Homo sapiens: one gene and its partners. The protein of the gene in region 2 interacts with the protein of the main gene of each other region in a biochemical or structural test. Each region holds a gene or a part of one and is shown on either strand. Other genes may lie near its edges. The genes, in order: PTPN22, PDGFRB and RPS6KB2.

Evidence for each region.
Region 1: of the proteins of PDGFRB (region 2) and PTPN22, one has a biochemical effect on the other in vitro, tested with the Homo sapiens proteins (one large-scale study listed by IntAct).
Region 3: of the proteins of PDGFRB (region 2) and RPS6KB2, one has a biochemical effect on the other in vitro, tested with the Homo sapiens proteins (one study listed by BioGRID).

What each region holds. Positions count from the first base shown.
Region 1 is NC_000001.11:113,861,588-113,865,234, reverse strand, and holds part of PTPN22 (tyrosine-protein phosphatase non-receptor type 22), read left to right. Parts: intron 1-957; exon of another isoform or gene 958-1,037; intron 1,038-3,647. UniProt on the Homo sapiens protein: Acts as a negative regulator of T-cell receptor (TCR) signaling by direct dephosphorylation of the Src family kinases LCK and FYN, ITAMs of the TCRz/CD3 complex, as well as ZAP70, VAV, VCP and other key signaling molecules.
Region 2 is NC_000005.10:150,131,800-150,135,446, forward strand, and holds part of PDGFRB (platelet-derived growth factor receptor beta isoform 1 precursor), read right to left. Parts: intron 3,218-3,647; coding exon 2,951-3,217; coding exon of another isoform or gene 2,917-2,950; intron 2,210-2,916; coding exon 2,082-2,209; intron 1,962-2,081; coding exon 1,787-1,961; intron 1,144-1,786; coding exon 951-1,143; intron 296-950; coding exon 180-295; intron 1-179. UniProt on the Homo sapiens protein: Tyrosine-protein kinase that acts as a cell-surface receptor for homodimeric PDGFB and PDGFD and for heterodimers formed by PDGFA and PDGFB, and plays an essential role in the regulation of embryonic development, cell proliferation, survival, differentiation, chemotaxis and migration.
Region 3 is NC_000011.10:67,427,268-67,431,423, reverse strand, and holds the start of RPS6KB2 (ribosomal protein S6 kinase beta-2), read right to left. Parts: upstream 2,931-4,156; 5' UTR 2,879-2,930; coding exon 2,801-2,878; intron 2,443-2,800; coding exon 2,402-2,442; intron 2,305-2,401; coding exon 2,184-2,304; intron 1,898-2,183; coding exon 1,829-1,897; intron 57-1,828; coding exon 1-56. UniProt on the Homo sapiens protein: Phosphorylates specifically ribosomal protein S6. Seems to act downstream of mTOR signaling in response to growth factors and nutrients to promote cell proliferation, cell growth and cell cycle progression in an alternative pathway regulated by MEAK7.

The DNA of each region.
Region 1 (3,647 bases), on a different chromosome or scaffold from region 2:
TTTAAATCTGCATTTCCTTATATACGTTTTCTGTTCATCTACTTTCCACAGTAACAACAGCTAATCCATAGAACTGTGTTCCAGACTCTGTGCTAAAAGTGCTTCACAAATAGAACTTCATTTACCTCCCAAAGAACCTTTTAAAATGGCTATCAATGTCCTACATGGTGTCTCTCCAGCTTCTTATAGCATGCTCATTTTCTTGTCCTTGCCATGCTTCCTCTGCCATAGGGCCTTGCACACATGTTGTTACCTCCGCCTTGAACATTCCTCACACTCCTCTTTACCTAGATAACATTTGGTAATTTTTTTTTTTTTTTTTTGAGACGGAGTCTCGCTCTGTCACCCAGGCTGGAGTGCAGTGGCACGATCTCTGCTCACTGCAACCTCTGCCTCCTGGGTTCAAGTTATTCTCCTGCCTCAGCCTCCTGAATAGCTGGGACTACAGGTGTGTGTCACCATGCCCGGCTAATTTTTTGTGTTTTTAGTAGAGACAAGGTTTCACTGTGTTAGCCAGGATGGTCTCTCGATCTCCCGACCTCGTGATCTGCCCACCTTGGCCTCCCAAAGTGATTATAGGCGTGAGCCACCATGCCTGGCCTTTTTTTTTTTTTTTTTTTGAGACAGGGCCTCACTTGGTCATCTAGGCTGGAGTGCAGTAGTGTGATCATGGCTTACTGCAGCCTCAACCTCTAGGGTTCCCATCTCAGCCTCCCAAAGTGTTGAGATTACAGGTGTGAGCCACCATGCCCGACTAATAATTCTTTAGATCTCAATTTGGTGGTCAATTCTTCAAAGAAAGCTTTCTTTTCTTTTCTTCTTTTCTTTCTTTTTTTTTTTTTCTGGAGACAGGGTCTTGCTCTGTCACCCAGGCTGGAGTGCCGTGGCTTGATCATAGCTCACTGCAGACTTGACTTCCTGGACTCAAGTGATCCTCCAGCCTCAGCCTCCCAAAGTGCTGAGATTACAACCATGAGCCACCACACCTGGCCAGAGAAAGCTTTCTGGACCTCTTTGAATAGATCAAATCTTCTATTGTAAGTTCTTATTAGCACCATTTGTTATTTTTCATAGCACTTACCACAATTTCAGTTTTTTGTTTGTTTGTTTGTTTGTCTGTTTTGAGATGGAGTTTTGCTCTTTTTGCCCAGACCAGAGTGCAATGGTGCGATCTTGGCTCACCGCAAGTGACTCTCCTATCTCAGCCTCCCGAGTAGCTGGGATTGCAGGCAAAGTTGCAGTGAGCCGAGATCGCGCCACTGCACTCTAGCCTGGATGACAGAGTGAGATCCCATGTCAAAAAAAAATATATATATATATATATATATTTATTAAATATAAAGGATTCATTGAATCCTAACAGAAAGAAGATACCTAGTTCTGAAGGCCAGGTTTAGGTGCTAACAGTTTAAACTATACTAGAAATCAGACTGGTACTATTGCAACTTCTGGAGATTCATTAGAAGACCAGAGACATATCAAAGATCTGGCTACATCTTGGTTCTATAAAGGAGACATAGATACATCCTGGTTCTGTGTATATTATAGTAATGATACTAACCAAACAGTTATCAACAAGGTACTTCCTACAGAGCAAGTGCACAAACATCTATGAATTGACACTACTCATTCCTGTGAATCAGCCTATCACTTGAACATATTTATCAGCATTTCTTGACCTTTGTGCACATTAAGGTGCAATTTTTAAAAATGCCACCACCAGAATAAATGTATCACATCACCTCTGAAGCTGATTTCTCTAACACCATCTCCAGCCTCTCACTAGGGACCATCTAGTCCTACATTTTCATTTACTCACAGGACACTTAAAACACATTTCTTGGCTGAGCGCAGCGGCTCACGCCTGTAATCCCCACACTTTGGGAGGCTGAGGCAGGCGGATCACTTGAGGTCAAGAGTTCAAGACCAGCCTGGCCAACGTGGTAAAACCCTGTCTCTAATAAAAATACAAAAGTTAGCTGGGCATGGTGGCAGGTGCCTGTAATCCCAGCTACTCAGGAGGCTGAGGTGGGAGGATCACTTGAACCTGGGAGGCAGAGGTTGCAGTGAGCCAAGATTGCGCCACTGAACTCTCTGCTGGGTGACAAGGCAAGATTCTGTCTCAAAAACCAACCAACCAACCAACAACACACACATTTCTTGCCATTTTCTCACATTTTATGTATCTAAAGTTGAACCTCTTGGTTTACTCACCCCAATTTAGCTATTGCCTACCCACCTACCCATTTGCCCCACTATTGCACTGGAAACTAACCTCGATAAGTTTGTCAGTCTTGTTGAAGATGATTGCATTGCACGCTCGTACAATTCAGTCTTGTCCTCCATTCCTACTGGTAGTTCTCCTGATTACTGGATTTAGAAGCCTGAGCTCCTAATGCCATTCCTTACCACTTGTACTTCTTCTGTCCTGATGGAGGCTTGGTATAATACTGACCTATATTTGCAAGGCACTGAGGAACTACCTTGCAGAGTTCTCGAGACAGCCAAACTTTGTGTTCTCCCACCTAGCACAGGAGGGCCAAGTTTAATTTTCCTCTCCCTAAAATGTATCTAAAATGCTACGTCTTCTATCCAGTAATGTAGTCCTTCAAGGCAAAGATATCGTGGTCTTGTGCTTTCTTTTACTTTCTGTTCTTTTTTGGGAGTGACTTTATTTTATTTACTAGTCTGTGAGAATAACATGCAAATGACTCAATCCGAATTTCTAGAATCTAATACTCCTTGTTATACTGGCCAGGATCCCCATTCTCCTCTCCTTTCTTGAAACGAAAGGGGTAGTATCATCTACAAACCAAATGAACTTACTATTAGCTTATCAAGCACACACAGAATCTGGTTTCTCACACATTCCACCCTATTTCAGGGCCCACGAGGGATGTTGAGCTCTCTCTTCACTTTATTCTCTTTTTTATTTTTATTTTTATTTTTTTTGAGGCGGAGTCTCACACTGTCACCCAGGCTGGAGTGCAGTGGTGTGATCTCAGCTTACTGCAATCTCTGCCTTCCAGGTTCAAGCGATTCTCCTTGCCTTAGCCTCCTGAATAGCTGGGATTACAGGGGTCTGCCACCATGCCCAGCTAATTTTTTTTGTATTTTTGGTAGAGACGGGGTTTCACTATGCTGGCCAGGCTGGTCTCGAACTCCTGACCTAGTGATCTGCCTGCCTCGGCATCCCAAAGTGCTGGGATTACAGGTGTGAGCCACCGCACCCAGTCTCTTCACTTTATCCTCTTGGCAACTATTCCCCTGACTTCTCTTGATGGTACTTCCTCTAGGGAACTCACACCCCTACCTTGTAGTTGGCAAAGAAATACCTTCACCCTTTAGATCTCATATCTTTTCTTCACAAACTTAAACCCATCCCCATGACCCTGCTTCCTCTTTTATACCCTTTTGCTTTCTACTTTCAGGGTTCCTCCTTTTCTGGTGTAGTTTATTACTTTTTCTGCCCTAATTTTGCCCTAATTTGTTCTTTCTTGGGATATTGGAGCCCGGGAGTCTGGCAGGAAGAGAGGTGGAAGAGAAAAATGAAGCCTGCCGGGCGCGGTGGCTCATGCCTATAATCCCAGCACTTTGGGAGGCCGAGGTGGGGGGATCACTTGAGGTCAGGAGTTCAAGACCAGCCT
Region 2 (3,647 bases):
AAACTGAGGCCCAGAGGCCAGGTTCACACGGCAGTGGGTCAGTGGCCTAGAATCCATCTCCTGAGTTCCAGGCTCCCTCTCCCACTCCTCCCATGGGTGGGTGGACAGTGCAGGAAGGGAGAGGGAACGGGGGCAGGGAGGGGAAGGAGCAGGGACATGGCGAGGGGCGTGCTCATCACCATTGATCTGTAGCTGGAAGGAGAGCTGGACCTCAGCATCCTCATGGAAGGCCCGCATGGTGTAGTGGCCAGCCTCTGCCACCTTCACGCGAACCAGTGTCAGCTCTGACACATACCTGGGGAGCAGGAAAGGCAGCTGTCAGAGTCGGAAGGACTCTTACAGTTCTCCCCACCCTCCTGGTATAAAGAGGAACAAGGCCCAGGGAGGGGAAGGGCTTGCCAAGGTCATCTCGGCATTGGTAGCAGAGCCGGGACTCAAACCAGGTCTCGTAAATCCTCACCCACAGGCAGTTCCCCTAGGCCAAGAGGGAGGGTTGAGATGAACTGTGGGTGGGGGTGGGGAGCATTGAAGGAAAGTCCTATTTCTCTCCCCTTCAGAAAGGTGGACACTGCTCCATCCTAACCTACCACAGTCTCTGTCAGCCAGCAAATCTCCAGCCTCAGGGATACCACAGGCCATGAGTGGCCTGCCTGGCACCCTCTTCCCCAGTCATCTGCCCGTTTACTTCTTGGCTGCTACTGCTGGCCCCACCCATCACAAGGACAACTAAACATCTGGGTGATCATCTGACCGGCGACTGTTTCCTCCACTAGACTAGAAACTCTAGGAGGGATGAACTGTCAGCTCTGGTCGCTGCAGCATCCCCAGCACCTGGCACCTAATATGCTCTCAGAAAGCTGGGCCTAGGTTTGTGGCTGAAAGCCGAGGGCTGCCTGGCGGCTGCAAAGAAAAATAACTTCAAGAATGGGATGGGAGAGCGAGCTGCTCACCGGGTCTCCGACACGTTGCGCGTGGACAGGGCGATTTCGCCAGCGCTGGAGTCGCCCAGGGTGCGGTTGTCTTTGAACCACAGGACAGTGGGCGGTGGGTAGGCCTCGAACACTACCTGCAGTGTCCGGCTCCGATGCAGCTCAGCAAATTGTAGTGTGCCCACCTCTCCCAGGAGCCGCACGTAGCCGCTCTCTGCAAGGGGTGACCGTCAGGGGCGGGGCCCTGGGGGCAGGGCACCAACTGAATCCCAAAGGAGGCCAGCCTGTGGGGTGGGGCTTCAGGCCTGGGGACCGTGCCAGCCATGGAGTTTCCGGAGCTGAGGTTGAAATTGGGCTGGGGACAGGGCCTGGAGAAGGGGCCGAATTTGGGGCTAATATGGATGCTGGGGCCAGCTCCCAGGTTGGGAACAGAGTTGTACTAACAGTTCTCTGTTCTGGGTCAGTACTGTGGCTGATGCTGGGACTAGTGATAAGGTTGAATTTGGGGATGGGGCTTCCCGGACCTGGGATGGCAGTTGGGCTTGGAAGTCAGGTTGGGGCTGGGGCTCTGGCTAGTCAGAAAGTCTAGGTTGAGATAGGGTTGGATTTGGGGCTGACACTACATTTTGGTTTGGGGTTTATCCTGGAATTGGGGTTTTGGTTGGCACAGAGGCTAGCTAGGGCTGCACTGGAGTGTGGCTGACTATACCCCGGGGCTGTGACAGGCACTGGGTCCAGCTCAGCCCTGATCACTGTATCAAAAATGCAACTCTCACCATCACTCTGCACCCAGCAAAGTGGGTGAGGGTGGGGAGCGTTGAAGGAATTGGGGATTGGGCTGAGCCCAAGGCACACACCAACCACGGTGATGTTGATGGCCTTTTCATCCTGATGGTCATTCACACTCTCCGTCACATTGCAGGTGTAGGTCCCCGAGTCTTCTAACTCGGCACTGGGGATGTGCAGGATGGAGCGGATGTGGTAAGGCATATCCAAGAGGAAGTCAGTCACCGGCTCCACCAGCCGCCCACTCTGCAGCAACAGGTTGGGCAGGCCCCCCAAATCAGGAGGGGCCGGGGAGAAATCAGCCTGCAAGCCAGATATCCACCCGTTCCTGGCCCCTCCTCCGACCCCTGCCTGGCCCCACATTACTTCTTTGCGGGGGTATGTCCACTCGAAGTTGACCACCTCATTCCCGATCACAATGCACATGAGGGTGATGTTCTCACCCTGGCGGACCACAGTCTGCACTGCGTTCACAGAGACGTTGATGGATGACACTGGTAGAGAGAGATTGGCTTAGGTCTGGGGAAGTCACCACCAGCCACTAGCACTTCAGCTTGGGGATAGGGTAGGGGGCTAGAGAGGGAAAGGATGACTGATGTAGAAGATTCATTCATTCAACAAATATTTACTGAATACCTACTACATGCCAAGTACTATTCTGGACACTGGAGCAACAGTAGTGAACAAAGTGGACAAAATCTCTGTTCTTATGGAGCTGACGTTCTAGAAGGGATAACAGTCTGGAAATCAAAGTACCCTCTGGAGATCTATGTACAGGAGAAATGTATTGAGCACATAACATGTGCCAGGTACTCTCCATCTTTTATTTAATCTTCACAATTGATCCTATGAGGTAGGCAGCCATTGTTATCCCCACGTTACAAGAGGGGAAGCAGGCTCAGAGAGATTATGTGCTTTGTGTAAAGTCACTCAGACAGGAAATAGCAAAGCTGGGATTTCGACCCAGCTGGCTCTGAAGCTTGTGCCCTCACCGACCATGTTGCACAGGCCAGCTCTGCCACTATCGAATTCTGCGACAGGGGACAAGCTCCATCCTCTCTCTGCGCCTGAGTTTCCCTCTTCTGTAACATGGGGAAAACACTATCTTCCTTCGAAGGCTGTGGTGAGAATCCACTGGGAAGTGGAGTCCCACACTTTGTAAACTGTAAAGGGCTATTCCTCTGTGGAGGGTTATACTTGCCTCTGCTGAGCATCAGGCCAGAAAGGGGGCTCACCCTGGAGTCTGTAGACATAGTAGGCATCAGAATCCACCTCCCTGTCCCCAATGGTGGTTTTGCAGATGTAGCTTCTGTCCTCAAAGATACCAGAAAAGCCACGTTGGTGATCATAGGGGACAGGCAGTGCAACGTCCCCTTTCTTCTCGTGCAGTGTCACCACCAGCTGTGGGTCTGTTACTCGGCATGGAATGGTGATCTCAGTTATTTCCGTGAGAAAGATGAATAGTTCCTCGGCATCATTAGGGAGGAAGCCCACGGTGGGATCTGCCAGGAGTGGAGCCGTGAATAAATCAGGGGAACTGGGTTTCTGGCCATCCCCTGAATTGCTGTGTGGCAAGTCATTTGCCATCTCTGGCCCTCTGTCTCCCCGTTACAGAATAGGGATGCTCCCAGAAGAGCATAAATCAAATGTTAGAGCTGGTCCCTTCCAGCTCTAATGTTTGATATTGACAGTGCCAGGGTAAGAAAGAAGGCAAGTCACAAGTTGAAATGCAGCTGATATCTGGAGCTTGGAGAATGGGGAAGAAGGGATGTGGGGTCAAGAGGGAGCAGATTGGAAGCAGCTGAGAATATAGAGTTCTTGGGAGGCAGGAATAGGGTGACTGGCAGGGAGCAGGCAGATCACCCAGACCAAGGAGTGGGTGCGAACACACTCCCCGACTGAGCCAGGCTGGTTCCATGATTGTCTGCTTTT
Region 3 (4,156 bases), on a different chromosome or scaffold from region 2:
ATGTTCCGCTCAGCCCGTGTGTGTGCTGTGTCCTTGGCATTGCGCACAATTTTGGCCTGGAGATACAGGAATTGGTTAGAAACTGAGGCATCCAGGCTGGGCACAGTGGCTCACACCTGTAATCCCAGCACTCTAGGAGGCCAAGGCAGGCGGATTACCTGAGGTCAGGAATTTGAGACCAGCCTGGCCAACATGGTGAAACCCCATCTCTACTAAAAATAGAAAAATTAGCTGGGTATGATGGTACACGCCTGTAATCCCAGCTCAGGAGGCTGAGGCAGGAGAATCGCTTGAACCCAGGGGCAGAGGTTGCAGTGAGCTGAGATCACGCCACTGCACTCCAGCCTGGGTGACAGAGCGAGACACTATCTCAAAAAAAAAAAAAAAAAAAAAATGGGGGCAACCAGAGCTCCTCAGACCATCCATCTGTTTGTTAACTGCTGCATCCTCTGTCACTGCATTGTATTTCTCCATAATTCTGCTGCTGTCAGCCACCATCATTTTCAGGGATGGGTTTATCCTCTAACACAGGGTTTCTCAACCTCGGCACTACTGACACCTGGGACCAGGTCATTCTTTGTTGTGGGAGGCTGCCCTGCGCATCGTGGGATGTTCAGCAGCATCCCTGGTCTCCACCCACCGGGTGCCAGTAACACTCCCCTCTTGCCTTGACAATCAAAAATGTGTCCATGCCAGGCGCAGTGGATCACACCTGTAATCCCAGCACTTTGGGAGGTTGAGGCAGGCGAATCACCTGAGGTCAGGAGTTCGAGACCAGCCTGACCAACATGGTGAAACCCTGCCTCCACTAAAAAGTACAAAAACTAGGCCAGGCACGGTGGTTCATGGCTGTAATCCCAGCACTTTGGGAGGCCAAGGTGAGCGGATAGCCTGAGGTCAGGAGTTCAAGACCAGCCTGACCAACATGACAAAAACCCATCTCTACTAAAAATACAAAAAAAAAAAATTAGCCAGGAGTGGTGGTTCACGCCTGTAATCCCAGCTACTCAGGAGGCTGAGGCAGGAGAATCACTTCACCCTGGGAGGTGGAGGTTGCCAGTGAGCCGAGATCGCACCACTGCACTCCAGCCTGAGTGACAGAGTGAGACTCCGTCTCAAAATAAGTAGGTAAACAAATAGAAATACAAAGATTAGCCAGGTGTGGTGGCACAAGCCTGTAGTCCCAACTACTCAGGAGGCTGAGGTAAGAGAATTACCTGAACCCGGGAGGCAGAGGTTGCAGTGAGCAGAGAGTGCACTACTGCACTCCAGTCTGGGGAACAAAGCAAGACTCCATCCAAAAAAAAAAAAAAGCTAGGGACGGTGGCTCATGCCTGTAATCCCAGCTCCCAGCACGTTGGAGGCCAAGGCGGGCAGATCACCTGAGATTAGGAGTTAGAGACCAGCCAGGCGAAACCCCACCTCTACAAAAAAGTACAAAAATTAGCTGGGTGTGGTGGCAAGCGCCTGTAATCCCAGCTACTCCGGAGTCTAAGGCACGAGAATCGCTTGAACCTGGGAGACAGAGGTGGCAGTGAGCCAAAATCGCGTCACTGCACTCCAGCCTGGGTGACAGAGCAAGACTCCGTCTTAAAAAAAAATAAAATAAAATAGTGTCCAGACACTGTTGTCAAATGTCTGCTGGGAGTCAAAATTGCCCCCATTGAGAATTACTGCAAGACAATACACATCACAACAGACAATAAACCAGCAAACGCCAAAGTCAGGGATCCTCCTCCACTGTGTTCCCTGCTGTCTTCCCAAAGCCTGGTACAGCATGTTGGGAATGGCAGCCACACAGTATTCGTTGGCTGAACGAGTGACTCACCTTCCTTAGGACTTTCATGGCATATATTTTGCCCAAGTTGGTGCCTTGCACCTTTCGCACCTGGAACACCTGTAGGGCAGGGGAGACAGGATCAACTTCCCTCTCCACATCCTATCTTCAAGAAGCCCCACCCTGAAGCTCTGGCTTTGGGATCAGGAGGCCTAGGCCCTGCCAAGGGTGGGGCAGTGAAGATTTCAAGTCCGATTGGAGAGGATTTGGCCTTCCCTCCTTTATGTTTCTGGCTCTGAATCCCATTAGAGGCCCTGCTGATTCACAAGTCTAATTTGTTTTGAGAACCCTTTGCTGCCTCCAGATGGAGGCTGTGAGGCCAGGAGGAGGGTGCGCCCGCCCCTACCTTGCCATAGCCCCCCTTGCCCAGCACACGCAGCAGCTCAAAGCAGTGGGGCCCGATGCGCTCTGGGCCAACGTTCACGCTGGTCTCAGTCAGCTCCACCTCTTCATAGTGTCCCACAGGCCTACGGACACAAGGAGTTAATGAGGACAAGGCTCCAGTGCTCCCCAGTTCCCCTTCCCCACTCCATTCCCCCCTCCCCCAACACGACCCTCACTCACTCTAGGCCAGCTGCCCTCAACTCGGCAAGGGGACATGCGTCCTGTGAGAAACCGAGGGGTAAGAGCCAAGGAAGGTGCCAGGATACCTCCCCGCTCCCGTTCAGGTTGGACTGCGTGGCCCAGGAGAGAAGGGTGTCAGGGATGGCAGCTAGTAGGGGATGGGTAAGAATTGGGAAGAAACCGAAGGCAGGAAAGGGAGAATCGGGAGAAAAGGCTGGGGTTCTGGAAGAGAGGTCGGGGTGAGGGTGGGATCAGAACTTAATAGAGACCGGGATCTGAGAAGGATCTGGGTCTGCAAAGAGTCGGAGCCCGCTCTGGGCGTGCGGAGCCGCCGCTCCGGCCTCGGCTGGGTGACAGGATCGGCTCCAGGATCCAGTCGCGCCAGGGCAGGGCACTCACCGCGGGGCTGAGCTCTGGCTCGCCCTCGCCCTCGCTGCCTTCCTCCGTCTCCAAATCCAAATCAAACACGGCCGCCATGGCGGCGCCGGCCCCGCGGGCCCGTCGGCCCGTACCTGGCCGCGCACTGACTGACAGTCCCGGACCTAAACATCATCTCTCCGCGACGGCAGCTGCGCGCGCCGGTGACGCAAGGGATCTTACTCCCCCTCCGGAAAATCGCTTAGCCTGGTGGGGAACAAAGATGGCTTCCGTCGCAAGGCCTCTCGGGAATTGTAGTCCTAGAGTGGCGAGGCGCCTAGCCTTCAGCCTGCAGAATCCTTTCCGCAGGACCCTCGGTCTTCCCAGCAAGGCTTTCTGGGAGCCCGTTTTGGTTCTACGGTGTTTTGAGTTTGGATGGAGCAGGGTCGGAAGTGTATGCAGGTGTGAATGTAAATGCAATCCCCAGCCCTGTTGGAGACGGGTACTGCCAGGCCGGCTGCGTGATGAAAGGCAGGTCGCGTTGCTTTCGGTTCACTCCAGAAAGGGAGGCGGCTGCATCAGGGTCTCCTCAAAGTGCCTCTGGCTCGAGGACCCTGCAAATCGGAGCATTTACTGAGTGGCCAGCTCACTGCCAGGCTATGTTGCCAGGTTCCCGCCTTAAATAGGGTTTTGGGGGTCAGTGATAGACCTGTAAATATGGGATTTTGTTGGCGTTTACTCCCTTCTTAATTTAAGCACATTTAGGCACCTGGTACAGAATAGACACTTCAAAAAACGTTGTTGAGGCCGGACACGATGCCTCACGCCTGTAATCGTAGCACTTTGGGAAGCCAAGTTGGGAGGATCACTTGAGGCCAGGAGTTCAAGGTTACAGTGAGCTATGATGGTGCCACTGCACTCCAGGCTGGGTGACACAGTGAGATCCTGTCTCAAAAAAACAAACAGGCCGGAGGCGGTGGCTCACACCTGTAATCTCAACACTTTCGGAGGCCGAGGTGGGTGGATCACTTGAGGTCAGAAGTTGGAGACCAGCCTGGCCAACATGATGAAACTCTGCCTCTACTATAAATACAAAAAATTAGACGGGTGTGGTGGCGCGCACCTGTACTCCCAGATACTCGGGAGGTTGAGGCAGGAGAATCGCTTGAACTCGGGCGATAGAGGTTGCAGTGAGCCAAGATTGCACCACTGCGCTCCAGGCTGGGCGGCAGAGTGAGACCAAGTCTCAAACAGATAAAACCCGAAAACCTGGCTGGTCACGGTGGCTCACACCTGTAATCCCAGCACTTTGGGAGGCCGAGCCAGGCGGATCACCTGAGGTCGGGAGTTCAGGACCAGCCTGACCAACATGGAGAAACCCCGTCTCTACTAAAAACA